Regions from separate parts of the Homo sapiens genome. Here region 1 is linked to region 2. Evidence: fine-mapped expression QTL. A gene starts in region 2. The other region holds a variant in brackets. All regions are shown on one strand. Distances are between the middles of the regions. Region 1 overlaps SLC2A13 (solute carrier family 2 member 13). Region 2 holds the start of SLC2A13 (solute carrier family 2 member 13).

Region 1 (16,249 bases), 150 kb after region 2:
AATCATGCCACTGCACTCCAGCCTGGGTAATCCATAGGGCTTTTCTCAGGAATGCGAAGGTGGTTTGATGTTACAAAGCTATTATTGTGACTTACTGTGTAACGCTCATCTCCATAGAGGGAGAAAAGGCATTTGATAAAATTCATTGCTTTTTTAATTAAGTAAACACCCCATATTTATGGGGTATATGTGATATTTTGGTACATGTATTAAAGTTCATTGTTTTTTCTCCTTGGGAGGTTGAGGTGGGAGGATTGCTTGAGCCCAGGAGTTTTGAAGTTACAGTGAGCTGTGATTGTGCCGCAGCTTTCCAGCTTAGGTGACAGAGTGAGACTCTGTCTCATAAAAAGAAAAGAAAGGCCGAGTGTGGCGGCTCACACCTGTAATCACAGCGCTTTGGGAGGGTGAGGCAGGAGGATTGCTTGAGCCCAGGAGTTTGAGACCAGCCTGGGCAACATGAAACCTTGCCTCTAAAAAAAAAATTTTTTTTTAATTAGCCAGATGTGATGGCATGTGCCTGTGGTCTCAACTACTCGGGAGGTTGAGGCGAGAGGATTGCTCGAGTCCAGAAGTTTAAGGCTGTGGTGAACCATGATCATACCAGTGCACTCTAGTCTGGGGCACAGAGTGAGACCCTGTCATAAACAAAAAAATTATTGCTTATTGATAAAAGGTTAGTAAACCAGGAATAAAAGGGAACTTCCTAAATCTGTTTAAGGATACGTATCAGAAGCTTTCATCAAGGATATTACTGATGAAACTTTGGAAGCATTCTCTTTAGTCCAGGCGTGGTGGCTCATGCCTGTAATCCCAGCACTTTGGGAGGCTGAGGCAGGTAGATCACTTGAGGTCAGGAATTCAAGACCAGCCTGGCAAACATGGTGAAACCCCATCTCTACCAAAATTATAAAAAATAAGCTGGGCGTGGTGGCGTGCACCTGTAGTTCCAGCTAGTTGGGAGGCTGAGGCAGGAGAATTGCTTGAACCCAAGAGGCAGAGGTTGCAGTGAGCCAAGATCATGCCACTGCACTCCAGCCTGATGACAGAGCGAGACTCCGTCTCAAAGTAAAAAAAAAAAAAAGAAAAAAACATTCTCTTTAAAATCATGCAAGGGCCAGGCACAATGGCTCACGCCTGTAATCCCAGCATTTTGGAAGGCCAAGACGAGTGGATCACTGAAGGTCGGGAGTTCGAGACCAGCATGGCCAACGTGGTGAAACCCCATCTCTACCAAAATACAAAATTTTGCCAGCTGTGGTGGCGAGCGCCTGTAATCTCAGCCACTCGAGAGGTCGAGAAAGGAGAATCGGTTGCACCTGGGAGACTGAGGTTGCAGTGAGCCAAAATCACGCCACTGCACTCCAGCCTGGGTGACACAGTAAGACTCTGTCTTGAAAAAAAAAAAAAAAAAAAAGAATGAGACAGGAAACCATTTTTCACCATTTAATAAACGTTGTACTGAAAATACTAGCCAATATTAGGCCGGGCGCGGTGGCTCACGCCTGTAATCCCAACACTTTGGAGGTTGAGGTGGGTGGATTACTTGAGGTCAGGAGTTCGAGACCAGCCTGGCCAACATGGTGAAACCCTGTCTCTACTAGAAATAAAAAAATTAGCCAGGCATGGTCATGCGTGCCTGTAATCCCAGCTACTCAGGAGGCCGAGGCAGGAGAATTGCTGGAACCTGAAGGCAGAGGTTGCAGTGAGCTGAGATCACGCTGCTGCACTGCAGCTTAGACAATAGAACGAGTCTTCATCTCCAAGAAAATACTAGCCAACATTATAAAGGAATAAATAAAGCTGTCATTGTTTGCGGAAGTCTATGTAGAAAACTCAAGAGAATGTGCAGAAAATCTTTTAGAATTAATAGAGTTCACCAAAATTGGTGGATATAAAATTAACATACAAGTGCAGCATCAAAGAGGAAATGTAATGTTAAAAAAGATACCAATGATAATAGAAACCAAAATGTCAGGTACTGCGGAATCAATATTATGAAATATGCATATAACTTTAGAGAAAAGTAACTGATATTTTAGCAGACCCCAATAAAGATATATTTACATATAGGAAAAAAAAGTGGCCCTGTCTATAGACAATGCTAACAATATAGCTATTTAAGAAAATCATATGGACACGGGGAGGGGAACAACACACACTGGGGCCTGTCTGGGGGCCAGGTGAAGGGAGAGCATCAGGATAAATAGCTAATGCATCTGGGACTTAATGCCTAGGTGATGGGTTGGTTGGTAGATGCAGCAAACCACCATGGCATGCATTTACCTGTGTAACAAACCTGCACATACTGCATGTGTATCCTGGAACTTAAAGTAAAATAAAATTTTTTTAAAAAGAAAATTATTTATTTAGAAAGGATACTTCCTCTTTTTAAATAAAAGTTTTCTAGAACAGTAATTCTTCGTAATTTTTTCCTCAGCAACATACCACACTCCCATGACTGTTAAGAAGTTTGAAATTCGTTCAGTTGAGAATTGCTGAGGAATGCATTTTATGTCTGCTTCATTTATGTAGATACTTTTGACAAAGAAAATATTTTAGAATTTAGAAAGAATTCTTGATAGTAACAGAAATTGGTTTTTGAAAACAGTATTTTAGTGGTATTAAGACCTATAATCATCTCCTCTTCTAAGTTGATAAAAACCTTTACATTAGCAACCTGGAATAATAATGACCAGATTAACACAGTCATTGCATACCGGCCCTAATGTACCATGATCAGCTTACAAGCACGCATCTATAGACAACTGGCCCATCACAACATCTTGGCAAATTGATTGCCTTGGAGGATTTTGGAATGTATTGGCATAAATGCCAGACTGTGAAAGAATGATTGAACCACATGGGGTTGAATTCATCAATAGCAGCAGTCCATTCTTTCAAGCAGAACATGTGCCAAGCACCAGCTTGTAATCACAAACATCATCTGCTGCATATTGAAGAGGAAAACAGCGTGGGTGTGCTCAGGATCTTGGTGGTAGTTTCTAATTAATCACAACATTGTTTAGCAACTTGGAGTATACTCAAATTGCTTCATCCATGAGTTCTCAATCCCCATACTTGCTCTGGTGTTTCTCTTTTTTTCTCTTCTTTCCTTCTTTTATTCCTTATATTCATCAAGGAAATATTTACTGAATGTCCTCTATTTACATGATCCTGAACTAAGCACAATGGGAAGTAAAATGATAAAATGAGCAAAGCCTGAACTACACACCCGACATAATCCAGCACAGAGATCATAATTCACTATGGAACAGAGATCAGGGACCTAGTCCCCAAAACAAATTAGCCAGGAGTGAGAGCCTGGTCCAGTCCTTCAGAATTGCAAGGATGGGATCCCAAGCAGAAGGAACATTGTAAGAGACAAAATTGTAACAATATGGGACTTCTTTGAGTAAAACAGATTACCCAAAAATTGCTGAAGCATTGCCTATTAGAGGAGAAGTAGTATGAAACAAATCTTCTCAGGTGGGCTGGGGCAGGAGTGTCCCCTTCATGAAACAGGCCCTGATGGTTCTGTTATCAATGGTTTTGAACAAGTAAGTGGAGGATTCAGTGGGGTGCTTTAGCCAACAGGTGGCAGCAATGTGGAGGCGGGATGGATTGGATTCGGTAGAGACTGGGGATGTTGAGACCACATATTAGGCTTCTTATTGAACACATGAATAGTATGTGCCAGGAACCTTATTATCTCTAATCCTCAAATGGATAGTACTACTCTTAAATCCATTTTACTGAAGGGGCGATGGAGACTTACAGAATCTCACAGTGGCTACATTGTAGGACTGGTATGTTAACACTGGTCTGTGTGAACACTTTCCACAGCCGTGCACTGTCCCACTGGGAGATGGATGCCAGCCAGACAGGCAGTAGAAAGGTGGGGAGGCAGAGAGGTACAGGTGCAGAACAGAAGAAATCTTTCCAATGTTTTGTGGAAAGAAGTTAGGCATACATACATTAATTCTGATTAAAACTTGGCAATGTATTAGATTCAGGATATATGAAGAGAGAAGGAGCACTCAAAAGCCATGAATCTTGATTTACTTTGAAATTAGATAACATGGGGTAAAAAACAAGTTTGGGGTGAGAAATGAGGACTTCTGTTTTGTATGTACCTGAGTGGCATACCTCTTGTGGGTCCTTCCTTATGCCTTAATCTCATAATACTGTATATGTACCTCTGTTAGAGCACTTACACCATTGTGGCATAGCTTGTTTTGTTTTGGTGGATGACCCCATCCTGGTATTATGAGCTCCTCAGGGGCTGGGCCTCCTCACGTTTCTGTCCCTAGCATGGAGTAGGCTCATGGGAAGCGCTTCAGGTATGATAAGGAACTAGGGGATTCTTGGCCAGAGAGACAGGAGAAATCAATGGAAGTCCAAGGAGGAGGAATGCTTAAAGTGAATGTTGTGAGAACATGATTGGGAGCCAGTTAGAGATGAGTGAAAGGCTCCCCTGATAGCACGCAGGACCTGACATGCTGAATTTGTCCCAAAATGAGTGTGGCTCGTTTTTGTAATTATTCTCAAACAATGCTCAACTCCCTGGATGTGGGAATGGAGAACTCCCTGGATGTGGGAATGAAATGAGTGGCTTGAAGTAGATAAATCTGGAACTGAGGCTGGATAGAGTGGCAGGTGGGACCATGAAAATGATGAAGAAAATGAAATGGAGGAATTGCAGTCGTAAGGAGCACAGAGTATGTTTGTTACTATAGCTTGGAAGTGTTTCAGTTTTGTTTTGTGTTACTTCTACTGTTCATAAGTTGTTGATTTTTTATGCTAAGAAAAATAAGCTTATTTAAGTGGGCATACAAAATATCTTGGCATTTGTGGCATGAACAAGATGTCGGCCCAAGTTCTCTCTCTAAACACTTACTAGTTTGTGACCTTGGAAGAGTTATCTAATCCTTCTGTGTTTAGTTTCCTCTTTTCTAAGATGGGGGTAGCAACACTTGGTCTCTCTGACTTCACAGGACTCTGATGATGATAGGAAATTGTTCATAAGGCAGGAAGGGTTATTGAAGTATTAGATAATCCATTGAGATTTGAGCAAATGCTTAATACTCTTGGTGATTGTGTGAGAATGGCCGCCTCTGGTTGCATTCAGGAAAGGATCGTGGTGTTGGGGGATCTTGCTGTGCTTGATTGTAGCCCAATTATAGGGCCCTAAATTGAGGAGTGGGGAGAATAATATTTGAAGCTGAGCAGTGATTATCTTGCTCCCAGTGAGGCCCCTGCTTTCTCCACAGGGGCATCTTTACTTTATCAGCAGTGGGGAAGCCTCCTACAGTTTGCATCTTGTAATCCATTAGTCACAAAGTGTTCCACTTTTTCCTCCTTAACTTTAATATTAATACAAGGTAAAACTCATAAATAAATAAAACAAAAAGAAAGGGAAGAATAAGAGCAAGAAAAACCTTGAAGAGGTGTTAAGGGGGCTTCATCATTGGCAGTTCTCTTTCAGCAGTCTCACAGCAGACTTCATTACTTCAGTTTGATCAAACATTGTTGTTTCTAATAACCCCCTTGTGTTCTTACTTAAGGGAATATCATGCTCTTTGAATATTGAATTTTTTTTCTTATCCAGTTCACCATGTCAGCCTTCCTGACATCTAAAGTCTCTAGATTATTGGTGAAGCTTTTTCTTACTTTTGTTGTTGATTTTTAGCAGCTCTATTGAGGAATAATTTACATACAATAAAAAGCATGTATTTAAAGCATATAATTTGAGACGCTGGCATATGTGAACACCATGAAACCATTACCACAACCATGCAAGTGAACATATTGCTGCCTCCCCAGAACTTCCCTTGGTGCCCCTTTGTAATTCCTCCCTCCACAGGCAACCATTGATCTGCTTTCTGTCAAGTTATTTGGACTTAGAGTTTTCTTTGGGGGAACGTTTTTAACAAATTCAGTATTTTTAATAGCTTATAGGGCTGGCTACTCAGGCTATTTCTTCTTGAGTGAGTTTGGAAGATTGTATCTTTTAGGGAATTTGTCTGTTGCATTGAAGATGCTGAATTTAATGGCATAAAGTTGTTCATGATACTCTTATTATTTTAATATCTGTCCTGAGTTCACCTCATTTACTCCTGATATTGGTCATTTGTGTTTCTGGCTTTTTCCTGGATAGTCTGTGCATTTGTTTTCTGTGGTTACTATAATAGATTACTACAAATTTGGTAGCTTAACGCAGTAGACATTTATTTTCTCACAGTTGTGGTGGCCAGGTGTCCACTCCTGTCCCACACCCCCTCCAGAGTCCGTAGAGGACAACCTCTTCCTTCCTTTTTCCAGCTTCTGGGGGCACCTGTCATTCCTTGGCTTTTGGCTGCGTAGGTCCAATCTCTGCATTTGTCTTCTCTGCTTTTGTCTCGAATCTTCCTCAGCCTCCTCCTGATAAGGATACATGTGATTGCATTTAGGGAAAACCTGGATGATCTAGGATTGTCTTCCGATCGCAAAATTTTTAACTTAATTATACCTACAAAGTTTATTTTTGACATCTAAGATAATACAGGTTTCAGGGATTAGGATGTGAATATGTTTTGAGGGGCCCTTATTTAGCCTACCATAGCTTGGCATGAAGCTTATCAATTTTATTGGTCTTAAAAAAACAATTTTGGTTTTATGGATTTTTCTCAACTCTCTTCTTTTCTACTTCATGGATTTCCATTTTGATCTTTAGTAATACTTTTAGCGTGTGCATACTTTGGGTTTCACTCGTCTGTCTTTTTCTGGTTTCTTAAGGTTGAAGGTTTCCTAAGAGATTTCTTGCAGTAATTTTACCTGTTACACTTTAGCTCCATTCCACAAATTTTTATAGGCTATGTGTTTAGATTCTTTCAGCTTTATATTCTTACTAATTTTCATAGAAATGTGTTATTTAGTTTCCAATTTGGGGGATGTTTTCCAGTTGTCTTTCAGTTACTGATTTCTATGTTAATTTCATTATGGTCAGGATATTCTTAATATGACTTGAATCCTTTTAAATGAGTTGAGACTAGTTTAGAGCTCAGAATATAATCTACCTCAGGTAAATATTCTAAGACATTGACCATACAATTTAAGAATGCATATCCTGCTCTTATTTGGTGGAATGTGGTTTAAATGTCACTTATTAGGTCAAGTTTGTTGATAGTGTTCTTGGAGTCTTCTATATCCTTGGTGAATTTCAGGATACTTGTTCTGTCGGTTACTGAGAGTGATGAAATATGAGAGTACAATTGTAGGTTTTTCAATTTCCCTTTTCTGTTGTGTCAGTTTTTCTTTCAAGTATTAATATTTTGAAGCTCTCAGTAAGTGCATACACGTTTAGGATTGTTATATTCTCTTGATGAATTGGTCCCGTTATCTTTACAAATTGTATTTTCCTGCCTTTGTGCATTCTTAGTTATTTTTTATTTTATGTCCACATTATAAAATTTTATCTCATTGAGTTTTGTTCTCGGATACCATTAAGCTGCTTAGAAGCAGTTGAGTCTTGCTTTTATGCTGTTTTAGATGGCATTCAAGTAATGTTTAATCTAGGACTAAACTTACACCATTATTAAGGTATATCCCTTCTAAATACTCTTTTGTATGCTTCAGATTTTTCACTCTGGTTCGTAGGAACAGGCACTATCCCCAGCCCTGTTTGAGCTCCTGGAATTGATTTCTCTAACCCTTTCCAGTAGCTCTTTCCCCTGTCTTGGGTTGTTTCCTCACACACCTACACTGATCAGTACTCAACTGAATACTCAAGGGAAATTCTGAAGATCTCCAGATTCTCCTCCTCCCTCTCTGAATCTATCCTCCCTGGGTCCTCTGCCATCTGAATTCTAGCCCCCTTGGCATCTCTGTATTCTGAGCTGCATCTTTTCAACTCAAGGAAACACCAA[T/G]GTCTGCCTGGTTTACCTGCCCTGTGCTGCAGCCTGGAAACTTTTTTGAGATATTGAGCTGGGGACAGTTACAGGGTTCGCCTCATTTGTTTCCCAAATCTCAGGTATCACTTTGCTTCATTGCCTGTTATCCGCTAGCATGAGAACTGTTGTTTCATGCATTTTTGCATGGCTTTCTAGTTGATTCATGTAGAAAGGGAAAGCTGATAGCCATTATTCTGTCTTAGCTGGAAATGAAAGTCAAGAGCTGGAATTTTATACAAACTGGCTTTTAGTGCATTTTTAATCATACTTAGAAAACCTTCTGTAGGCTAGGTTCACAGACAACCTATCATCCACAAAAGTGGCTGCCCTTGTGGGACTCTTTTTCATCCCTGCTGCTGGAGCCTCTGCCACCTGGACAACCTTATGCAAGTTACTTAGCAACTTGGTAGTATGAGGTGTTCAGAGTGAAGGAAGAGGGATGAGCTCATTTTGGGATCTTGAATCTACTGCTTTACTATGGGTTATATTTTAGGTCTTTTATTTCTAATCTAGTTGGTTAAAGGTTTTAGTTTTTATAATGTGAGAATTTCTGTGTTTGAAAGATAAACATTTAAAATAAAATTAAATGTGAAATGTTTGTATGCACAAAACATTTTTAATTACAAAAGCAAAAGAAATGTTTTAAGTAGAGCATGACATTTTAAATGTTCACTTATGAACATTCAGCCAATTAATGTACTTGATTTTTTTCTTCTGCCTCATAGATTCTGTGATATAAAGATTAATGATGGTTTTCATTTGTAAAGGAAGTTTTACTGCCTAATAAAGCTAGGTTCATAATTTTAATGAAAGGAAATTCTTTAATTTTGTTTATGCATAATCAGATGTGCAGCTGCTGGGACCAAAATTTATCCATTAAAAAATGCAGTCTAATAAAGGAACTACCATCATTTATTTTTAACAGGAAATCCAAATCAAGAGAAAATATAAAATCCAGATTTTAAAAAACTAGGAAATATGTGATGTTTATGCAATAGCTTATCTCTTGTTTTTATGGCAAGTCAAACTTTGGTCCTAATTTGTCATAATGTTCTGTATTTCTGTTCTCCAAAATCATTATTACCTAGCCTGACCATCAAATCATGATACAGTTTAATAGTGAAAGTAGATGCATCTTTCCAAAGATTATAATAGACTTCTTGCATTAGGAAAAACTAATTTCTCATCTGAGAAAGGGCTTTTGTTTGTTTTTGTTTTGTTGTCTTTTTTTAAAAAAAAAATCATGATATACAAGGTAAATGTTATTATTTTTATTTGAAAGTTTTGATTAAAGGAAAGGTAGTGCCTTGCTTATTTTGTGGGTCACTTGCAGGTATCTGTATTTGCAGATGAGCCTGCCTATCTTTCAGGTTGCTGATCCAGATATATTTCAGCATTGTTACAATCAAACTCTCAAAATTCACCTGTTTCACACAGTCTTTCTGATATATTAGGCTTTAATACTGCTTTGCTCGAATCTAAGGCAATTTGACATTTATAATACCCTCAGTCTGCTTTCTAAATGGATCGTCACTACATTTAGCTTTGAATGACCATCAACGCTTCTCTAAATTAATCTATTCCCTCTCTTGCCATTTAGAAACAAAATCATTTGCAATAACTCAAGTTTTATGATTATACTTATATCCATGTAGGAATAGAATATTCTCACCCCTATAATATTTCATTCTAATTAATGCCCTGGCTTGACGTCCCATACTAACTTTTATTGCTGAGACAACATACATATTGTATTCCATTTTTGTGAATTTGAATATTAGATTTTCAAAAGATCCTGAAATAGTTAGACTTCTTTGGATTTTAATTTACCGGACTTGGTTTAGAGTTCATTAACAAAACTTGGACTCTAATTAAGCAGTTAGCATTGCAGTGATCCCAGGCCATCTCTTCTAACAGCGGGAATACCATAGGTCCTGGGAGTTGACTCTAGCTCCATTAAGGACACCATATAGAATGCCTCTTAAAGCTAAGGTGACATTGTAACTGAAACACTTATGAGGCTGGAAGGGCCACATTTAGTAATTATGCCCTGACAACAGGCATCAATAAGGTTAGTCAACCTACTTAAGGACTCAGTGGTTCAGATTTACAGCTTTCCAGAACTGATCCAGAGTTCAGATAAAGACCAAAGTATCTCTGCCATTTTGAAAGTTCATTTGTATTTTAAAATAATCATTGATTGCCTCTTAAGGGACTATTCAAAATTTAGAAATACACACACACACACACGTACACACACATACACACATCTATAGATAATAGGTATTAATTGTTTTTCTTTATTAACTTTTTGGTAACTTTTATTAATAATCTCCATTGTAGCTATAACCAAGGCTGACATCATGCCCAAATTCTGTAACTTTAGTAAAATAACATGAATTTTGTTCTTTAATTCTTCTTAATGAATGCTTTTCTTACGGTTGATTAAAGCAATTTTGCCAGTGACTTTTAAGTAGTCCCACATGGATGGATTTTAAATAATACTTAATTGACAAGAAAGTTGAAGAACAAAGGAAGTGGTTAATCTCTAGAGCTTGTAGGGATTTAAGGAAGACTAATTTGACAGTTTTAGTTATATAGGTCTTCTAGTACCCATAAATTGCTTAAACTTAAATTATCTCTTGTCGCTTTTACAGTTCAAACTAAAAACAAAAACAAAAACACTATCTGTTTGCAAAATAAAATATTGTACCCAGATTTCTGTAAAAATAGAGTTGTTCTGATTTAAAATGCCCAGTCATGTTGATTTCATGAAGATTTAGGAAAATTTGTCCTATTGGGAATAATTACTATGAGAGCTAAAAATAATAGTTGTATTTTTTTTTTCTTTCTTTCTTAAAAAAGCTGGACCTGTGATCTGCAGAATGCTGAGTTATCCCCCAACTCGCCGAGCTTTAATTGTGGGTTGTGGCCTACAAATGTTCCAGCAGCTCTCAGGCATTAACACCATCATGTATGTATTTCTTTCTGGCTTTTTACTGAAAAGATTGTGAAAGGATTATTTTATGTGAAATAGTGAAAAGTATTTCATGTAAATACTAGACTCAGTGATTTGTTCTGATTAAATGTATGAATTCTCCTTTTGGGAGATACTGACTTTACAATTTTTTAATTCCAGTAATTTGTTACTAGATAAAGGTGATTTATTTTGTTTGTTATATGATTGGCTTTATTTGATTCCATAAAATTTCTCTTTTACGCCATCCAATACCTCCTTGTATTCTGAGCTTAAATGTGTCATTTTTTCTAAGCCATTTCTTGATGCTGGTTGGAAAGCAAAATAGAAGGAAATCACCTGGCATTGCCAGAGATTATGGGCACACAGATAACTAATTCATTTCTTTTTGGTGCAGTCTACTACAGTGCAATGTGATAAGGACATTAGTAGAAGTACGTTTATTATAACCAGAGTATGGTAGAGGGGAGATTGAGTGGGAAGGAGAGTGAGGAATACAGAAAAATTCCCTGTTCTCTAATTTTAAGAGTAATTCCCAAAGCTGTATGTGTGCTGAGGGTGGGAAGGACTAAATATTAAGGGCTCTACTAGGTTTCCCTCATTCAGTATTAAACCCATTTTTGAGGGCCTCTGTTGCACTAGACCTACAGCAGTAACTAAAATAGACCTGGGTCTTGTCCTCATGGATGTACAGGCTGGTAGAGGAAGCACACATTAAATAAACTCACAGTTAAATATAAGATTTCAAACTATGATAAGGGCCATACAGGACTCTCTCAATTCTCTACAGAGTAGACTTTTAAGATCCTAAATCATAAAATACAGTTTAGAGAAGGTTATGTGCTTTCCCAGGGCACATATTGTTAGATTAAAAGCTGCCACATCTTAGAAGTCCTCCCCACTCCCTGCCTATTGATTGAATTTTTTTCATTAAGAAAATACAAATTATGTAAAATTAAATTTTCTTTGGTAAACCATTTGTATTTGAGACTCTTGATTTTTTTTAATTACTTGAGATATGATGAGTTATTTAGTGACTGTTTGAGAAGAGTGAATTGATTAAAATATTTTTAAAAAAGAAGGATTAGGACCCAATGAGCCAGTATATTAAATCAAGATTTGTTGAGAAACTCCATTTTCTATACATTCACACACTTTGTGGATTTGACTTTAATCATAATCCCTGTTGAACTTCAACTTTCGAGACTACATGTTCAATATTTTGTTCTCTCCTGCTTCTCTCTGACATTAACTTTCATTTTTTCTCACCTTTACCAGCTCTATTAAGGCCCATCTGTTGGTCTAGTGCCAGGCACGTTTGATTGCTTGTTCTCTGAATTTGGCACATCATGACTTGTTCTGAGATGTGTCCACCTTCTGCAGTCTGGTGGAAGTATAGAATTGCAGCTAGGCTAGGACCAAGCATCAAATAATTAAATCCATTAATAATCCTATGTGAATTCGTTAGTTGACCAACCTAATATTTGTTCTGGTTTTGAAAATATGTTTTGTTTGTTATGCTTTTTTTCCTAAGCATTTAAACTTGACAAGTATAAAAGCATAGAAAGTGAAGGATTTTTCTTGTACTTTTTTTGTTTTCACTTAAAACTGGTATCACAAACAGAGCCAACTCTAGTTTATGGGTAGTGACTGGGGCCAGTGTATTCCTAGTTTGAAATGACTGTCATAATCCATTAGCAGTAGCTAGTGTAAATTGAGCTGATTGATGCTGTCAAATTTTAATAAAACATTCATTTCTCCAAAGCCTCACTTTTTTCCTGAAGATCAAGTGATATAAGGATCCTGATATTCTCTAATATTTATGATAGATGCACTTTGCTTATCATAAACTGCACATGATATAGGTAGTGTTGTCATAGAGCTTTTGTTTGCATTTGATTATCAATCCTGGAAAACAGGAAGAATAAAATAAAGTAAATGATGGCTGAACTTAGACTGTGTCTACATGATGTAAAACAGCTAATCAACTTCCTGCATAAATTAATATGTTCATGTCTAGAGGTTAAAGGATTAGACATTAAAATAATACAATACCTATGCTGAGTAACTGTTGTTTATTCACAGTACATAATTTCAGACATTCATATTATAAGCCCATAAAATTTAGTGTAAGTCAGTGTCATTATGATACACTGTAATACTGTTTACTGTCTGCATAAAAAACAACTAATCTGGGACTCTCATGTAATGTGTTTTCTCCTGCTCTCTCTAGTCTTTATTTGTGTGTGTATATGTATGTATCTTTTTCCATTATTCTCAAGATTAAGGAAATACTATCATAAACTTTGTTTCTGATTTAAAATAATCTATTAGAGTCTAGTAATTTACTTTTTTTATTTTTAGTAGAAATTTTAATTATGCCTTTTATTTTGTGTTACTTTGTTAATTCAGAATATCTTTTCTATGGATATTTTATTACATATAACACATATGTTTATGTATATAAAATTTTACTCTTTTTTTCCAGCTTCTTCCCTTTTAAGTGGGAAATAAAGCAGTTAATGCTTTTCTTTATTTTAATTCAACCCTAATAATGTGTAGAAGTTGAAATACGTTTTTGAAAATTCTGTCGTTTACCTCAAAATCTGAGTGAATGGAAATATAAGGTATTTTGAATTCTATTTCTCACCAAGGTGAGTTTATAGAAAGATTATACGGAAAGATAATATTAAACAAATACATTAAAAGATAAATCATCCTCACAGTTGTGTTATATAATCTTACTGTGTTTAGTTTTTTATCTTCTCCCTCAAAGAATCCTTTATTCCTATTCCCTTGACCTATTTACTATTCTGTCACATTTGACAAAATAGATTTTCTTCTTGAAATACTTGATTTTCTTTTCCTTTACCATATTTATCTATAGACAGTATATCATATATATAGATATATATCTTTTATTTGTATGATAACTTATGTTTCTTTATATCCCAACCCATACATTCTCATCCTCTACCCTACCGAATGGAGGACTTGTAAGTTCTTAAAACTTACATATTTCAGACATTACATTTCACTTTTAGATGAGGCAATTTTTTTTTATAATATGACTCTCATCCTAATAATTTCAACATGCAACTGAATTGATTATTTTCCTTTATTCATAGGAGAGAAAGAGTAGAGAAAATGGAGTACTAACTTTCCTAATATAAGGGTGTTAGTATCATTGCACTGTATCTCATAGACCAATAAAATATTTCTGCATGTGTCAAAATAAAGAAGAGGAGTGATAGATGAAGATGATGATGGTTAAAGTAAATTCAAGAAATTCTCGGCCAGGCGCGGTGGCTCATGCCTGTAATTCCAGCACTTTGGGAGGCCGAGGTGGGCAGATCATGAAGTCAGGAGATCGAGACCATCCTGGCTAACACAGTGAAACCCTGTTTCTACTAAAAATACACAAAATTAGCTGGGCATAGTGGCGGGCGCCTGTAGTCCCAGCTACTCGGGAGGCTGAGGCAGGAGAATGGCGTGAACCCGTGAGGCAGAGCTTGAAGTGAGCCGAGATCATGCCATTGCACTCCAGCCTGGGCGACTGAGCGACACTCCGTCTCAAAAAAAAAAAAAAAAAAAAGAAATTCTCACTGTGATCTATTCTAAACTCTAGTTATAATATCAAAGATGTTCCATGTTCAATCTAAGAAATATTTATCTGATGACTATTAATAAATAGACACTTCCCACATTATCATTACCACAACCTAAATACATGTGTTCATGTTTGGAGGAGGAAAGGTGTACGTAGGTAGTGAGAAAGAAAACACTAAGTTCTATGTGGGTTTGATAACATCTTTCTTTTTTGGGGAACTTGAAGTAAACTATATTTTGGTATATTCTGATAAGCAGATAATCAGTCTGTCTTGGATGAATGAAAGGTATCAGATTTTTACCTAAGAAGACCAAGTGGTTAAATGACTCTCTTTTAAGGTTACACAGAAAAACAGTAGTAAAGGGGGAAAGAAAATCCAGAGTTTAAGCTTTTGAGTTTGCTTCGGATAAAGAGAACTGTGGGGGAATCTTCTCTGGGGCATTTGGTCTTTTACTTTTTAGCCACTCTCCTTGCAGAGTAATATTGCCAGCTTTATTTCCTCTTCTTACTTTTCTGTCTTCTATTAACTCAGAGTAATAGAAGCTGAGTCAAGTTAGAGAGCTGAGTCAAGTTAGACAGGCAAGTGAAATAAGCGGGTAGAGGAAGCAGCAGAAAGGCCCTGGGAGCTTGCTGGATCCCAAGCAGCCCATTCCTGCCTGGCACCACAGTGATCCATCAGGAGAGTGGCCAGAGGAGCAGGGGGTAAAAGTCCACAGGGAGAAGAAATTCTGTAGCTGAACTTGGTAACAATTTGAATGGGGCAAGAAGCCTCCTGGCCATAAGGGAGGACGCAAATGGGGCGTTCATACTTCACAGGCCGGGGGAAAAACTAAAGCCCTTTTCTTTCACAACTGGGAGGCGGACAGCCTTGGGCAAATTTTCAAGCCCATCTCGCCCTCCGCCTGGAAACAGACTTGGGGCTGTTGCGGGAACATGGTGGGAGTGAGACCGGCTCTTCCGTTTGCGTGAGAGTTGGGTGAGGCCTGTGACTGCCAGCTTTCACCCACTTCCCTGACAATCTGCATGACTCAGCAGAGGGAGCCATAATCCTCCTAGGTACACAACTCCAATGACCTGGGAATCTCACCCTCAACCCCCACAGCAGCCACAGCAAGACCCGCCCAAGGAGAGTTTGAGCTCAGACATGCCTAGTCTCGCCCCTACTTCATGGTCCTTTCCTATCCATCCTGGTAGTGGAAGACAAAGGACATATAATCTTGGGAGTTCTAGGGCTCTGCCCACTGCCAGTCCCTCTCCACACTACTACAGCTGATGCTTTCTGGAAAGTTCCACCTAATGGCAGGAAGCCAACCAGCACAAAAATAGAGCGTTAAACCACCAAAATTAAGAACCCTCATGGGGTCCATTGCAACCTGCTCCCCACAACCTCCACTGGAACAGGCGCTGGTATCCACTGCTGAGAGACCCATAGGCGGTTCACATCACAGGACTCTGTGTAGACAACCTGCAATACCAGCCTGGAGCCAGGTAGACTCGCTGCGTGGCTAGACCCAGAAGAGAGACAACAAACACTGCAGTTCAGCTCATAGGAAGCCACATCCATAGGAAAAGGGGGAGAGTATTACATCAAGGGAACACCCTGTGGGACAAAAGAATCTGAACGACAGCCTTCAGCCCTAGACCTTCCCTCTGACTGATCCTACCCAAATAAGAAGGAACCAGAAGGCCAACCATGGCTATATGACAAAACAAGGCTCTTCAACACCCCCCCAC
Region 2 (16,249 bases):
TGACAGGGAAGACAAAAGTATCTTTCCAAACAGTGTTTGTTCATGCCATGCAACATTATATGGACAATGAGTTACACAATTTGTTTTATCAAATTAAAAGTTTTTGGTTTTTCTGAGTTGAGAGTATAAGGAAAGAGGAATTTATTAATTTATATAACACTCATTAGCCAATTATAAAATATATGTTGATTGTTTCAGCTGCATACTTTGCTTAGTTTTAACTTGATAAATTCATTCAATTTGGCTAAGTAGGGTCACAGTGGTACCATGCCTACTGTACTTACAATTTCCGACAGAGTGAGTGTTACAACTGAGTTTACAATTTGGATTCAAAATGCAAAACAAAATATATAAAATTGTTTAAAACAGAGTGATCAGTAAGGAGCTCATCATGTTACAAGTTCAATTTAAAGGGTATTTTCCACCTGGGCCTGGTGGCTCATGCCTGTAATCCCAGCACTTTGGGATGCTAAAGCAGGAGGGAGGTTGAGGTGGAAGGATCGCTTGAACCTAGTAGGTCAAGGATGCAGTAAGCTGTGATGGCACTGCTCTACTCAAGCCTGGACTACAAAGCAAGACCCTGGCTCAAAATTTAATAAATAAATAAATAAAAATAAAATTATTTTCCACTAACTAGCTCAAACATTGAAACTGCCTGAAGAACCAGTCTCAAACCAAATTAATCACATCTCAGTGAAATAAAGTGAGTTGTTAGTTTCATTAGTGAGTCTACTTTGAAACAAATACTTCCCATTGTTCTCATTTCAGATCGCTCAATCCTGCTTAATGAGAGCATTCCTTGAATTGACAAGTCAAATTGGGTTTTCTTTTTTGTTTCTTTTTAATTTTGATCATTTGTAGGTATTCATCTGGGTCAATAAAGAATATTTTGACACTCCACAACCAAAATTCAACTACTCTGGTTTTTTTTCCCTGTAGCAATCATTTAGTACATTGTGCTATGTATTATTAGTTACTTTTATATTTGGCCATGTGGATATTTTACTAGCTGAAAGACATTACATTTGAGGATAGGAACTAGGTACTATCCTTATGTGTACACATTGGAAACTTATGATATCTGAAAATGCTGAAGTCCTCTTGCCACTTTGGGGGAAGCCAGTGGAGGGCAAACCCAATATGCTAAGAATAGCAGAGTAGAGAAAGTGATAGAACCTGGCTCCTTCATAACATTTTTGGAAAAAGCTGATCATACCATTCCCAACAGCTGGCCATTCAGATTCATGCCATGTATTTCTGTAGTGTTTAGGACAGTTTGAATGTGGATTATCTGTTAGAATTGAAATCATCCAAATATGAATACTGTATTATTATTCCCAGTTACAGAAGAGAAAACTGAAGCTTATAGAGAATAAGTTGCCCAAGGTTACACAAGGAAGTAGCATAGTGAAGACATGAAGTGGAGTCTTTGTGACTACATCTTAGGCTCACTCCACCCCTCACCCCCAAATACACAAGATTACCCATTTAACAGAACTCTTTCCCTATTCTTGTTATTAATATCATCTTCTTTCTTATGATGATGTTCTTTTTTGTTTCCTTGCCTTTTTTTCTCAGAGGAAGAAGTGTCTCTCCTCCTCCCTATGGCTAGGCTAGCCTTGCCTCACCCCATATGTTCTTGCTCATATCCTTTCTGCCTTCTTTGGGACTTTGTCCTATCAATCATTCCAGCTCTTGAATTGACTATTTCTTTTTACTTCAGCATCTAAATAAATTCATGTCATACCTAATCCCCATCCACACCCTTTCCCTTGATCCTGATAACTCTTTAAGCTACTCTTTCATTACATTTAGCAAGAGACTTATAGAAAATGCAGCCTATGTTTGATATTTCCACTAATTTCATCTTAATTAAAATTGCTTTCTTAAAAGTCTCTGAGGGGAAACAGGCATTGCAACTCTCCCTACCCAAAGGAGGAGGAGATGATATAATGATGTGTCACAGGCTCTATTGCTGATCGGGTCATAGTTACTAGTGGGCAGGGTCAGTGTATGTTAAAAGGTCATCCATCCCTCATGCCTTCTTGTGCTTCCTGCTCCTTGTCTCTCTGTAGTGGCAGATCTAGACAGGGCACTGGCCATTGGGGTATGCTGACCATCTTTTCTTATTTCCCTCCATTCTTGTCTCCTTCCTTTCAGCTTTTTCCTCCTCCTCCTTACAGCAAGTCAAAGAAAGGTTCTTGTGGGAAGTACTAAATACCCAAGTATCTTATACTTCATAACTAAGCCATAGGACCCATACTTTACCTTTGTACTTATTAATAATACAGTATCTTTCTTCTGATGCTGCTATTGCTTATTATACATACAGAGATGAGGAATAATCAAAATGATGGGATTCTGGCATTACTAGGCTTCATGAAGGTAATACCATCAAAATAACATTTTGATTCTTCACAGTCACCGTTCATTGACTTTCTCTTTTTTTTTTTTTTTTTTTTTTGAGACAGAGTCTCTCTGTTGCCCAGGCTGTAGTGCAGTGGTGCAATCTTGACTCACTGCAACCTCTGCCTCCTGGGTTCAAATGATTCTCCTACCTCAGTCTCCCAAGTAGCTGGGATTACAGGGATGCGCCACCACACCCAGCTAATTTTTATATTTTTAGTAGAGATGGGGTTTCACAATGTTGGCCAGGCTGGTCTTGAACTCCTCACCTCAGATGATCCACTTACCTCGGTCTCCCAAAGTGCTGGTATTACAAGCATGAGCCACTGCATCTGGTCTTTCATTGACTTTCTATAATAAAATTCAAAGATTTTCCATGAGTTTTCATTCTCTTTGATCTCTGTGTAATATAATTGATTCTCTTAGCCAGTTCTTCCTTCTTGAAATGGTTTACTTGGCTTTTATGCCATGTTAACTTACTAATTACTTATGGCAACTCAAATATATTGGTTTTATTGCCAGCATTTATTCGCCTGACTTCTGGCAAAATAGCACATCACATTTCTTATGGGAAAACCTCCTATAGTCTAAGCCCATGTAATTTACCTTCACTCACAGCTCATGATGTGGGTGTTGATTGGCCCCAGCCTGATCACCAAACTGTAATCTCCCAGCTGCAGTAACTGGGGCAGGAATGGTACCACAACTGACAAATCCAATTACATACAATATAAGTTTGCTAGGGCTTTGGAGAAAGAGGCTCTTTTTCTGTCCTTTCAGACATGAGTGGAAAAGGATATTATATTAGGCTGTTCTTGCTATAAAGAAATATCTGAGACTGGATATTTTATAAGAAAAGAGGTTTAATTGGCTCACAGTTCTGCAGGCTGTACAGAAAGCACAGCACTGGCATCTGTTTCTGGAAAGATCTCAGGAAGCTTACAATCATGGCGGAAGGCAAAGGGGGAGCAGGCACATCACACGGTGAAAGCAAAGGACCAGATCTCCTGTGAACTCAAAAGGAGCTCATTTATCGCCAAGGAGATGACCCAAGCCATTCATTTGGGATCCACCCCCAGGATCTAAACTAGTCTTGTCAGGCCTCAACTTCAACACGGGGGATTACATCTCAACATGCGATTTTGATGGGGACAAATATCCAAACTATCTCAGGTATAGGGCTTGGAGTTTGCTACAGCCCTTTGAGCACCACATAAAATTTAAGAATGGAGCCTAAGGAGTAGGAAGCAGAGTGGAGAAATGGACGTCTGTGTGACATCCTGGTGTTTTTAGTCCTTTATCCAACTGCACTTGACGCCAACTTATTAGAGAGTTTTCAGAGACAATAGACAATAAGTACTCCCTCTTTCCCATTATTTTGGCTTAAACCAGTTTGATCTCGATTCTCTATCTCTTGCATCCAAAACAATTCAAAAACAAACAAATAAAACAACAATATATATATATGTATTTTACCATGTACATACATATGCATATAAATTCATAGAGAAAGTTCTGGAAAGATATATTTCAAAGTGGTAGAGGTGGTTATCTCTGGCCAAAGGGGTCTGTTATGGTGGGAAAGACGATTGAGAAGGGGCTTTTCGCCTTTCTTTATTGTTAGACTGCTTTGGAACATGTTACTGGAGGTTGTAAAGCAAATATCCTCAAAGCTGGAACTATAGAACTCACTGCAAACCAATAATGACTCTTGTAATTAAATTTGCCCTGCAATAGCAATTAATTATATTTCAAAAATACCCTTTAACACTCTCGTCAATGAGTAGTTGCTGCACCATTATCTGCTCTTCAAATGAGAGAAAAAAAAAAAAAGCAAAGCACAAGCTAATCTTGTGGTTTGTGGAAAGTTTTACGGTAAAACAATGGTGGTGTTGACATTCATCTCTTTTGATTCTCAGCCCATGGGTTTTCCAGTTCATCATAAACCGCAGCTGGGGCCGACTTTGGGGAACTCCATATTAGACTCACGCGCTGATGCTAAGTTGAACTGGACTCCCTCTCAAGGCTGAGACGAATTCTGTTTAACTCTCCGAAGCTTTTTTTTTTTTTTTGAGATGGAATCTCGCTCTGTCGCCCAGGCTGGATTGCAGTGGCACGATCTCGGCTCACTGCAACCTCCGCCTCCTGGGTTCAAGCAATACTCTGCCTCAGCCTCCCGAGTTGCTGGGATTACAGACGCGTGCCGCCATGCCCGGCTAACTTTTGTATTTTTAGTAGAGACAGGGTTTCACCACGTTGGCCAGGCTGGTCTTGAACTCCTGACCCCGTAATCCACCCGCCTCAGCCTCCCAAAGTGCTGTGATTACAGGCGTGAGCCACCGCGCCCGGCCTCCGATGCCTTTTTTTTCACGTCACATTTCTTTTAAAATGTAACCTGACCGCAGATACATAACTGTCCTAATACGGAACAGAATTTTTAAAGTAGTTTCTTGTTCTATGACCCCAAAGCTGAATTTCAAGCAAGGAATGCTCAGGAACCAAGATGTTCACTGCACCAGCTGAGACAAAAAGTAGTTTATTTTCATCTCAGCAAGAGGGAACTGTCAAAGAACCAGATGCTTCTCATCTGCGGAGCCCTTCTCTTCAGAAGCCGTGGGAATTGGCTCACCACCAGGGGGCGCAGTTTTACTATACCGTAGCATGCCGCGGAAAAGGCGCGCTCTCACCTGCAATATTGTCCGAGGTCTGAATATTAAAGAGTTCATTGCTGCAGATCTAAAGGCTCTCTCTGTTTAACTGATGCCTGGGAATGACGGTAGAGCCTTGCTTTAAAGCCAGACGATAACATTTAAATAGTTAAGCCGTCTGGCTTCATTAGTTTATTTTTCCTTGTTGCTGGCAAGGAAAGTACTATATTGTAGAGATAATCGTGACTGATAATCAAAACGAAAGCAGTTTTGACAAATTCTAATATAAGTTTTTACTGAAACAGGAATGACAAAATCCTTTTGTCTGAAAGGAAAAAAGTTATAGCTGCATGAAAAATAGGCCCCAGGCTAAGAAAGCTTTTGCTCAAATAAGGGAAATAAAAGAGCAGTGGAATTGTAGGAATAGAATCATATGATGCTTGACTTTTTGCCCTCAGCCTGAAGAATGAAAGCAAATTAGAGGCACAAAACATCTTTAGCAGTCCCAGCTGCTAGGAAGGCTGAGGCAGGAGAATCGCTTGAACCTGGGAGGCGGAGGCTGCAGTGTGCCGAGATAGCGCCACTGCACTCCAGCCTGGGCGACAGAGCGAGAATCTGTCTCAAAAACAAAACAAAACAAAACAAACTATCTTTAGCCCCTGATGCGCAACTGTATATTTTAAAAACATTTAAATTAAAGGGGGAAACAAACCCCAAATGAACCAACAACTGTTAATTCACTCAACAGTTTAAAAAATTGGTTGCAAATAACGTTATCTTTGCTTTGTTTCAAGTAAATGAGGCTGTTAAAACAGTGCCTCATGGAGGGCAACAGTGGGGATTCTCAGGAGAGAAGCTATCCTACCTTTTGGTTAGCATGTTGGGGCGGGGAAATGGAGACTGCCTGCCGAATCACAAATCAGGGTCTTGAGTTTTCTTTCTATTTCTGGGAATTACCCGTTACATGAGTGGAATGCATATATGTGAATTTTCTTTTACAGGTCGGGGATCCATGGAAGGAGGGTTTGGGATTCACCACAGAGATATGTTCTCTGTCCTCAAAGAATCAAATGTACCATTCCTTTAAAATAAGCATAAATTGAGGAGGGACTGGCGATGAGAGTGGAAACTAGCTATAGAAATGGGAGCATGCAGCCCTGAATTGCTCCAGAACAAACACATTTAATGCCAGGGAAGTAGACCACGCTGGGTAATGTCACAATACTATAAAAGGAAGGGTACTTGCTAGGTCCTATTCTAGGATATTTTTTCCAGCCCTCTCTCTAGGCTGCTGGAAGGACAGTGAGGCTGGTTTAGGTGCTCTCTCCCTCCTCTCCAAACACGGCAAACATTCTGGGTGGCTTCCCGTCTGGAAGCCTGTTGCCTGATGGCATCGCCACATTGGCTTGCTCCACCGCTGCAGCTCGGAAGGCAGGGTTAATTCCATACGGTTGCCAGAGCCCTAAATGAGGGAGCCTAGGTCAGAGGTCGCACCCACCGGGAGGGCGGGGTTTAGGGGTCCGGGGCGGGCTGAGCCTGGCCCCGCCCAAGGAGGGGGCGGGACGTTTCCCGGGCCCCGCCCCGCCGGCCCGGGGTTGCACGTGACCCGCGGTCCCGCCTCCCGCCCGCTCCGCAGCGCCAGCTCGGCAGGCGCGGGGCGTGAGTGTGGAGTGAGACCCGCCGGGCTCCAACTCCGCAGCGTCGGAGCGCGGCGGGCAGCAACTTTCTCCCCGGAGCGGCCGTGGCGGCGGCTGCTGCCGTGGCAGCCGGAGCGGAAGCCGGGAGGAAGAAAGCGGCGGCAGCGGCGGTTGCTCCCGCCGGCTCGGGCTGTCTAGCTCGCCGAGACTGCCGGCCCGCGGAGCCGCGTCCCCCCGGGCAGCCCCGGGCCCCTGCCCTATGTCCCGCAAGGCAAGCGAGAATGTGGAGTACACGCTGCGGAGCCTGAGCAGCCTGATGGGCGAGCGGCGCAGGAAGCAGCCGGAGCCGGACGCGGCGAGCGCGGCCGGGGAGTGCAGCCTCCTGGCTGCCGCCGAATCGAGCACCAGCCTGCAGAGCGCGGGCGCGGGCGGCGGCGGCGTCGGGGACCTGGAGCGCGCGGCGCGGCGGCAGTTCCAGCAGGACGAGACCCCCGCCTTCGTGTACGTGGTGGCCGTCTTCTCCGCGCTGGGCGGCTTCCTGTTTGGCTATGACACCGGGGTGGTGTCAGGGGCCATGCTGCTGCTCAAGCGGCAGCTCAGTCTGGACGCGCTGTGGCAGGAGCTGCTGGTGTCCAGCACGGTGGGGGCGGCTGCCGTCTCGGCGCTGGCCGGAGGCGCCCTCAACGGCGTCTTCGGCCGCCGCGCTGCCATCCTCCTGGCCAGTGCCCTCTTCACCGCCGGCTCCGCGGTGCTGGCTGCGGCCAACAACAAGGAGACACTGCTCGCCGGCCGCCTGGTCGTGGGACTCGGCATCGGTGAGTTCGGGCTCCGTGAAGGGCGCCCGGGATCCCATTGTCACCGCCCTTGACCCTGGGTGTTGCGTGCCTCTTGCCCATCGGGGTCCCCGTCTGGTCTCCCAGGGTCAGAGAATCCTCCACTTCTCTGGCCTCCAGAGCCCATCTGTTTGTTGGTCCAGCCTCCAAGGCTCTCCCGGGAGGTGGGAGGGTCGGGGGGGAGGGGGTGTCACTCTAGTCTCCCTCGAGCGCACGTGGAATCTTTGATAGGCCACGGACCAGTCAGTCCAAGTGGTTGTTGCCTCTCAGCACTTCCAGAAACCTAGCTGAGCACCAGCTCTTTCCTTGATCCAGCCTAACCTGATGCTGCTTCTTGAGCTTACGAGGGTCTCTGCTTTCCTGCACTGTCCCACCTTGCCTCTCCACTGCTAGCCCCTTTCGTTTTCTGGGGCTCCCAGCCTGGAACCTAGACCATCGTCAAGTTACAGTGAGATAATATTTAGAGTTAAGTAATTCTGGACTCTGAAAGGTTTATTAGCGACCCCTGCCCTCTTTGCTTATCTAGCATTTGTCTTTAGATGGCATCTCCTTTTGCTTTTATGCTTTTTCTATTGCCTTTCAGCTTTCATTCTTTTCCCAAGTAAATTCCATTCTCCTCTGTTTTTCCAACTTTTTCATTTGAATCCTTTTTTATCCATTCTCCTCTTTGTTTTTCCTCTCCTGCTTTCCAGTTGGGAACCAAATTATCTATTAAAGGTCATATTCACTTCCTTAATTCATTTAGGAGCTACTCCCCCTGTGGATAAATGCCCCGCAAGATAAATGTTTGGAATTTACTTCAAAAATGAAGGCATTAAGGTTCTCCTGGCGTTGAATTTTTTTCACCCTGGTTGCTGAGCAGGGGAGGTACAATTGGCAAGTTTTTGGCAGAGGGAAGCTATTTGGAATGTGCTCTGTATTATTAGAAAGCACTTTTGAGGGAAAGTGGGGGGCTGTGACTTAAATCTCACTAGTAATTTTTCTAAGACACACCGCTGATGCTTTTTTAATGTTTCGTTTCATAATTCAGTTTTTTGTTTCCCTTAGGGTGCTGTTGAAGTATTTCTTCCCTATGGCTGGGGCTTGATGAAAGCGCTTTAAACCTGGGGCTGCTGCTGATCTGTGTATTCACCACTTGTTTGATGTTTGTGCTTTTCACCCTTTCTCTGTGGGTTCTGAAGGGAAGCAAAGGCCATATATTCAACTCCACATGCGGGAACCATGAGCCTAAAACCCAGCTCACTGCACTTTATATTCAAAGTTTGTCAGTAGTGACCTTCCTTTTGCTGTTTATTGTACTGTTAATTAGCAAAGGTAGGGCAAAGCTCTCCGTAACATATTAAGTTGGCACAAAAATATCCAAAGTGACCAAAAAATCCAGCTGAAATGAAACCTATTTGTGTGGAAACTACTTGGGCCTTCAGGACCCTTCAACAAATAACCTGCTGTTTAAGTGACCACGATTCTTTTCTCAGCATTGTCTGCTTGGGACATCTGGACCTTTTTTGTTGCTTCTGACATAGAAATAACATCATTTTAGGTAGCAAGAATTGTTCTGTCAACCTCAATCTTTTCTGTAATTTTGAAATTGAATCATGCTTTGCAGAGCTGTCTAAATGAAGCTTCCTAGTGTTTTGCTATGGCAGGTATTGGTTAAAATCTTGGGTATTATGTTTACTCTTTTTATCTGACCTGCGAATTGAGCCCTGTTCTGTGTAAGGTCCCCTTCCAGATGTTGTGAGCTGAATAGTGAGGAGAATGTATTATACTTTAGTAAATGTAGCAAGCTGGGGCAAAAGCAACGTAGAACTTGCTAAGCTTTATAAGATAGGTTATCAGAGATGGCTGATGAATTCAGAGGGGGTACAGTTATCTCCAACAGAGGGAAGCCAGAAGCTCTTACCAATGGAAATGGTATGTTGACATGTCAGTATTTTAACAGAAACGAGGAAAGGACGTTCTAAGCAAGGGGCAAAATGGGTAAAGGAAGGAAAGCATAGGGCATACTTGGGGAATAGGTGGAAGCAGCAATAGAGGACAAAGCAGGAGATCAGATTGGAAGTGTTGGTGTGCAAGAGCTGTGGAGGCCTCTCTGTCTTGCAGCCTCATTCTGTGGTCTCTGGGCTGGTTGGTTCAATAGAGAAGCCCAGTTTAGATATGTTCTCCATTCAGTTCTGGTGTGGCCCATCTCACTTCCAGAAACATACCTCTCAGAATAGAAGCCCTGAGGCAGTTTCGTAAAAGCCCTCTTCATTTACAAAATGAAGAATGTTTTAAGATCATAAACAGGCTTTGAAATAGGCCGCATTCAAAACAAAACAGTAATGAAATAAATCCACTTCAAATTAGGATTAAAATTAGGATCTATGCAAAGCATGTAATTATACACATAAAATCATTAAAACTTACAAAGAAAATCACTTTTTTTTAAGCTACAAGGAAATGGGTTCCTAACATGAGCATTTTTTGAGGGACATTAAATCAGTTTGCTTGTTTGGTACACAATCTGGGTTAATTTTATGCCATTGTTTTTTAAGTAGTTAAATTTTATGTGTAGTCAGGGATTTGTTGTTTTGTCCTTATGATATTTAGGAAATGTTGATGAATAACAAAATGTGGCTTTTGATACCTTTTTCAGACAAGTTTGCTCTAAGAACTTCTTTCCTCCACACGTTTACCTGTGGTAAAATATACGGCCCATGTGGGTCAAGGATTTCTGCTCATTTTGTTCACTGATATATTCCTGCCACATAGGAGATACTTGTTGAATAAATGAATGGTGAGCAAAAACGAAAAAAAAAAATCCAAATTCCATTGCTGGTCGGGTAGCACTTTAAGGTAGGATTGTTCTTTTCAAACCACAAAAATAGTGCATTATCAAAATATTTGAAAGGGCATCTAAAGGTTTTGGTTGTAATAGTTTAATGAAATCATTATCTATTCAACACTTGCTAATTAAGCTTCCATTATGGATCCTGTCAGATATGGGGCAGGCAGTAATTAGATAAAAATCCCACCCTGGAGGTGTTCATTTTATAATGGAGTAGAAAGATACATAAACAAGCAATTAAAAGAGACATTTCTCTGTAGTGCCAGATGACACACAGAAGAGTAAGTGGTCAGTTGATTCTTTCAGGGAAAAAAATAGAACACAGGATTGAGGAAAGTTCTACAGTGGGATATTCAAAGTAGGGTTTGAAGAGTGAGTAGGTGTTCAGCAGATGATGTAGATGTAGCCAGAAAAGTGCTTATTTAGTGCTTTAGTATGTTCGAGACCTGGTGGAGTACTTTACACATATTACCTCATTTAATCTTCCTGAGTCTGAGGAATGGGTCTCCTTTTGTTGGGTGTGGAAACAGTTAAATGGCAAGGTCACTGATTACAGAGACAGGATTAAAAAAAAAAAACAAACAACCTTGAGTCTTTTGCTCTGTTACCCTACTGGGCATTTAAGGTGGAGTTAATAGCTGGTGTAAAGGCACAGAAAAATCAAATTAGTATTTGAAGCATAGATGAGTGAGGGTGGTGATGAGGTGGTCATGAGACTGGAATGTTTTGGGGGGATTAGGCTGAATATGGTTTATTTGGAGAGCTTTTAGAGGTTTTTAACAGTAAATAATGTAATCAGATTTAACATCTCTTGAATCTGAGATGTGAGGGTTTTTGTTTTCCCATTATACTTTTAAGCTCTTTTACCTTCTTTCTTAAGTCTTCTCATGTCTTTGAAATTTTGGGTATTAGCAATCATTTGCTGAGATGGCTACTACAGGATGGGTAAAGCATAGCATGTGACCGTGAATTACTGATATGGAAGGAGTCAGTGGACCCTTCAGTAGAAACCTTTGACAAAGGCGAAGATAGCAAGGAGTAGAGTGTAGTTATTAATGGGTATTAAATGAATTGTATAGTAAAAGACCTTAAGTATCAGAAGTCAGGGATATGTGTATTTGTTTTGATTTAAGGGTTCTGTTTTCTTGACTGGTTGTAAAAAAAATACTGCGTGCCTGTTTTAAATATGGCATTATTTTGGGTTTTCTTTTCTTTTTTTTTTATTGGTTCACCAGAGTCATCTTTGGTTCCTCTAGTTTATTTTTCTCTTCCACTTGAGTCCTGACACTAGACTTTCTCCATTGTCGCTGCCTGCTACCATGACCATCTGAACTTTTTAAACGTGAAAAGTCGAATTTCAAATAGGACATACGTTTTCCATCCCAGAAATGATTGTATTCTAACAGGGTTAATCTTTTTTTTTTTTTTTTTTTTTGTCTGAGATGGAACTTCACTCTTGTCGCCCAGGCTGGAGCACGGTGGCGAGATCTCGGCTCACTGCAACCCCCACCTCCCAGGTTCAAGCGATTCTCCTGCCTCAGCCTCCTGAGTAGCTGGGATTACAGGCGCCTGCCCACCACACCCAGCTAATTTTTGTATTTTTGGTAGAGACAGGGTTTCACCATGTTGGCCAAGCTGGTCTCGAACTCCTGATCTCAGGTGATCTGCCTGCTTCGGCCTTCCAAAGTGCTGGGATTACAGGTGTGAGCCACCATGCCCGGCCCAGGGTTAATCTTATTTTGTATGTTCTTTACACACAATCCCATTTTCAGGTGTTTGTTTAGCAGTATTGTACCTATAATCAAGGTTTTGAAGTGTGGTTAGTTACAACAGGATTGAAGAATATGAGTTTGCTCATTTGCTTTATTTATTTTCTATCATTGTGTATCTCCCATGCATAACACAAAAGAAATTGTCTAGAAAACACAAAGTACAAGAGCATAGTACTGTTAACACTATTAGCATGTACACAGTCAGTGAAAAAGCATACCCATTAGCCCTTTCTCCCTGGTGTTGGCATTTATTCTACTGCTTATTATAAGTGGTGATTTAGGGCCTGTGTAGGGAATATCAAGAAATCTCTAAATTTGATAGTCACCAGTATTCAAAACCTTTCCTGAGAATTGACATACTAATTTATACAGCACGGGATTCGTTGAATTAATCTTAGATTTACATCAGTTTCTCCTGTGTCAGCCTCTTTCCGGACTCCCTCTACTTGAACACAATTTGTAGCTGTAAATTGCAGCTTGTAATTAGTATATTATGGCCTGTTGAGTAATACTTTTAAAAATACCACATTTTTTTTCAAACAGCACTTTGAATTCTTCCTCAGTGCAAATGAAATGTAAAATCTTGTTTGATCAAAAAAATGCAATGTTGAGATCAATGTCAACAAAGAATGTCATTTAAGGTAAGCATAGTTGGGCAGAAGCTCCTAATTTTCAAATAGTTAATCAGCTAAAATACAGTTTTGGGGGGAGGTGCTCAAATTTTTTTTTTTTCCACTACTCCCCACTTTCTTTCTTTTTGGTTGTTTTTGAAGGCAGGAATTCTGTATTGGATTTATGCTTCCTACTGGTGTGAAACTGACACATAAAGCCTCCTTTGACTTCTTGTATTTCCTTGTTTTATACACATTAACAGCTTTGTTCCCTCCCCTTTTCTGTCTGGCAGCCTAGGGACTGACACTGCAGTTATAGTGAGGATTATGATCTAGTTGTGTTTGCCTAGTAGTATAGCAACACCCTCTTCAAGTGAGTTGTCAGTAAGATAACGTAAGTCTGTTAACGTGAGTTATGTGAAATTGTTCACGTGACTTCCTTGGAAAACATTGTGCTTTTTCATTCATCCATTTTGCCCTCTTATGGATTATAAACTTAAAGTAAGAACACACTCAAAGTTAACTGACTTCACACTAACATCTTTTTGAACACCTTTAATGATGTAGAAACTGCTAAGAGAACTGAAATAGCAAGCAGTCGTTGCCATCTTTACCCAAAATCACCTGAGTCTAATTTTCTTTTTCTCATATTGTACTTGGCTCCTTTGTACATCTTTCTTGTCTACACCTTTTTCCATTTCTTTACCTTTCTTTTTCCTGTGACCCATCAGAGTAATAAATAGTAGCAACACTTCTTATAGCACCTATTTCTAATAGTATCAAAACTTCCATTGTCAGGAGGAAAATTCATACTCACCAGAAAAACCTCAAACTTTTCCCACATGTAAAATTTAATTTCTCTGGTTGTAGAAAGAGAGAAAAAAGTTTTACGGGTACTTCTAAACTCAAGTTGAGAGTACTACATGCTTTCTAGTTAGGCCTTTTATTAAAGGCCACCATTTGAAATGGTGCGGTCTGCAGCATGTGTCCAAGGCCACGTGGCAGGAGCATCGTTTCACAGCAGGGCCAAGCACCGTGACAGCTGGTCACCAGCGAGCAATGGCACCAGTGTTCTTCTGATTTTAGCGCCACCCTGCCGCTGCACTGGGAGGAGTCTAGGCAGTCCATCCTCTTGGCAGGGTGTGGATTGGCCATCAGCTTAGCGGCCAACACCCTGGACGTAGTACTTAAGACTTGTTGAATGCTTAACTTCTAAACATTTTGCACATGGCTAATTCACATAGTCTTCATAATAACCCAGGGGGATAATACGGTTACCTTTATTTTAAGATAAGGATATTTAGGCAGAAAGAGTTGAAGTAACTTTCTCATGATCACAAAGCTACTGGGTGGGGCCAGAGTTCAAACCCAAGAGGTCTGGCTTCCCAGCCTGTGCTCAACCAGTCTGTGACACTCACTCACTCACTCACTCCTCCCTGAAACTAGCATAATTGTTCTTTACCATGATATGTCATGTGGACATTACTTTTGTTTGTTTTAGTATAGATTTATTTTTTTATTGTGGTAAAGAACACATAACATTTATACTCTTAACCCATTTTAAGGTGTACAGTTCAGTATTGTTAGGTATATTCACATTGTTGCACAACACATCTCTAGAACATTTTCATCTTGCAAAACTGAAACACTGTGTCTATTAAACACAAATTCCCCAGCCTCTCTTCCCTATCCCTTGGCAACCCACCTTTCTACCTTCTGTTTCTATGATTTTTACTGCTTTGGATACTTCACGTAAGTGGAATCATGCAGTATTTGTCCTTTGTTGGCTTACTTCACTTGAGGTTCATCATGGTGTAGCATATGATAGAGTTTCCCTCTTTTTAAAGGCTGCATAATATTCCATTGTGTATATGTGTGTGTATATATATACACACCTATATATACACACACATATAAAAATAAATACACATATATGCATATATACATATATATACACATATATACATATATACACATATATACATATATACATACATATACACATATATAGGGCATTTAATCTATCCATTCGTCTGTTGATGGACCTTTGAGTTGCCTCTCCCTCTTGGCTGTTGTGGATAATGCTGCAATGAAGATGGGAGTGCATACATCTCTTTGAGGTCCTTCTTTGAATTATTTTGGATATATACCCAGAATTGAGATTGCTGGACCATGTAGTAGTTCTATTTCTAATTTTTTGAGGAACTTCTATCCCATTTTCCATAGTGGCTGCATTTTACATTGCTACCAGCAGTATACAGGGTTCCAATTTCTCAATATTCCCACCAATATTTGTTGTTTTCTTTTCTTTTGACAGTGGCCATCCTAATGGATATGAAGTGATATGGTGGTTTGGATTTACATTTCTCTTATGATTAGTGATGTGGAACATTTTTTCATAGGCTTGTTGGCCACTTGTACATTTGTATATCTTCTTTGGAAAATTGTTTATTGCATTTTCACGTCCCTGACCTATTTTTAATTGGTTTATTGCAGTTGCTATTGAGTTGTAGAAGTTCCTTATGTATTCTGAATATTAACCCCCTATCAGATATATGATTTGCAAATGTTTTCTTTCATTCCATTGGTTGCTTTTTCACTGTTTATTGTGTCTTTTGATGTACAGTTTTTAAGTTTGATGTAGTCCTATTTGTTTTTGCTAAACACACACAAAACTAAAACTGTTGGAGTCATTTGTCATGCCCCTTGAGAGTAAGCTTTTTGGAAGTTCTAATAAAATACTAGATTTTACTTCTAGGAGTATGTCATTTTGTTCCCTAGAATACATTCTTTGTGAAAATATATTATCTTCATTTCCTTTGATATAATGCTTTTTAGCAGCTTAACAGAGGCATTATAAAAAGTAGGCTCTAAAACAAAGCTCATTCTTTATGCCTATAGGTGTATATGTTTGCATTCACCTCAGTAAGTAGGAACATTGGTATTTTCCTTAGTTTAAGTATGAATTAAAGGAAGTGTAGAGAAATTAGGGAAATTAGCACTGTTAGTAACAGTGCTGAGATTTAAATCTGATCAAGAACCAGTGTGCACCCCACCTTTCTATTATATGATAAATCCAGTTTTTGATTGTGAAAGCGAAATATGGTCACTATAATGTTTCGTAAATTAGTATTAGTATTTAATGTGCTAGCAATGAAAATCCCAAGATGATACTTTCTAGAATTTCACAAAATGATTGTAATCAGATTGAGGGAACAGTAGTAAGACAGTAGTTATAGACAGAAGAAATTAATGCAAAGAAATAATATATATATAATGTATAGGGTATACTGTATATATTATTAAAACCAGTATAGGATGAATGGAACAGAATCAGAATTCCAGTGATAGATCCAACTGTTTGGAAGAGTTTAGTATTGAGCAAATAAGAGGGAAAAGAACGAAGTAACTGAGAAGAGGAAATAGGAATATGAATTTAAAATAATGTAAATGAAATTTAGGTCTCATCTTCTCTAGTATATTGGTTTAAGAGTCTCTAATTTTTTTTGTTT

Evidence for each region. PIP is the estimated chance that this variant, and not a neighbour inherited with it, causes the effect.
Region 1: its variant is the best candidate, but not a certain one, in a credible set for the expression of SLC2A13 in hippocampus (GTEx, PIP 0.67).

What each region holds. Positions count from the first base shown.
Region 1 is chr12:39,945,910-39,962,158 of GRCh38, reverse strand. It overlaps SLC2A13 (solute carrier family 2 member 13), which reads left to right. Exons shown (of 10, transcript NM_052885.4): 4 at 10,794-10,902. Among named protein-coding and RNA genes, the nearest start is that of SLC2A13, 150 kb to the left of the region's middle. RefSeq lists an enhancer at 14,947-15,446. The variant T/G (reference allele first, on the strand shown) is at 7,905.
Region 2 is chr12:40,096,510-40,112,758 of GRCh38, reverse strand. SLC2A13 (solute carrier family 2 member 13) reads left to right here and starts at 6,678. Exons shown (of 10, transcript NM_052885.4): 1 at 6,678-7,506. The coding sequence starts at 6,951. RefSeq lists silencers at 5,014-5,143, 6,525-6,774, 6,795-7,054, 7,075-7,144, 7,155-7,244 and 1 more and an enhancer at 5,355-5,524.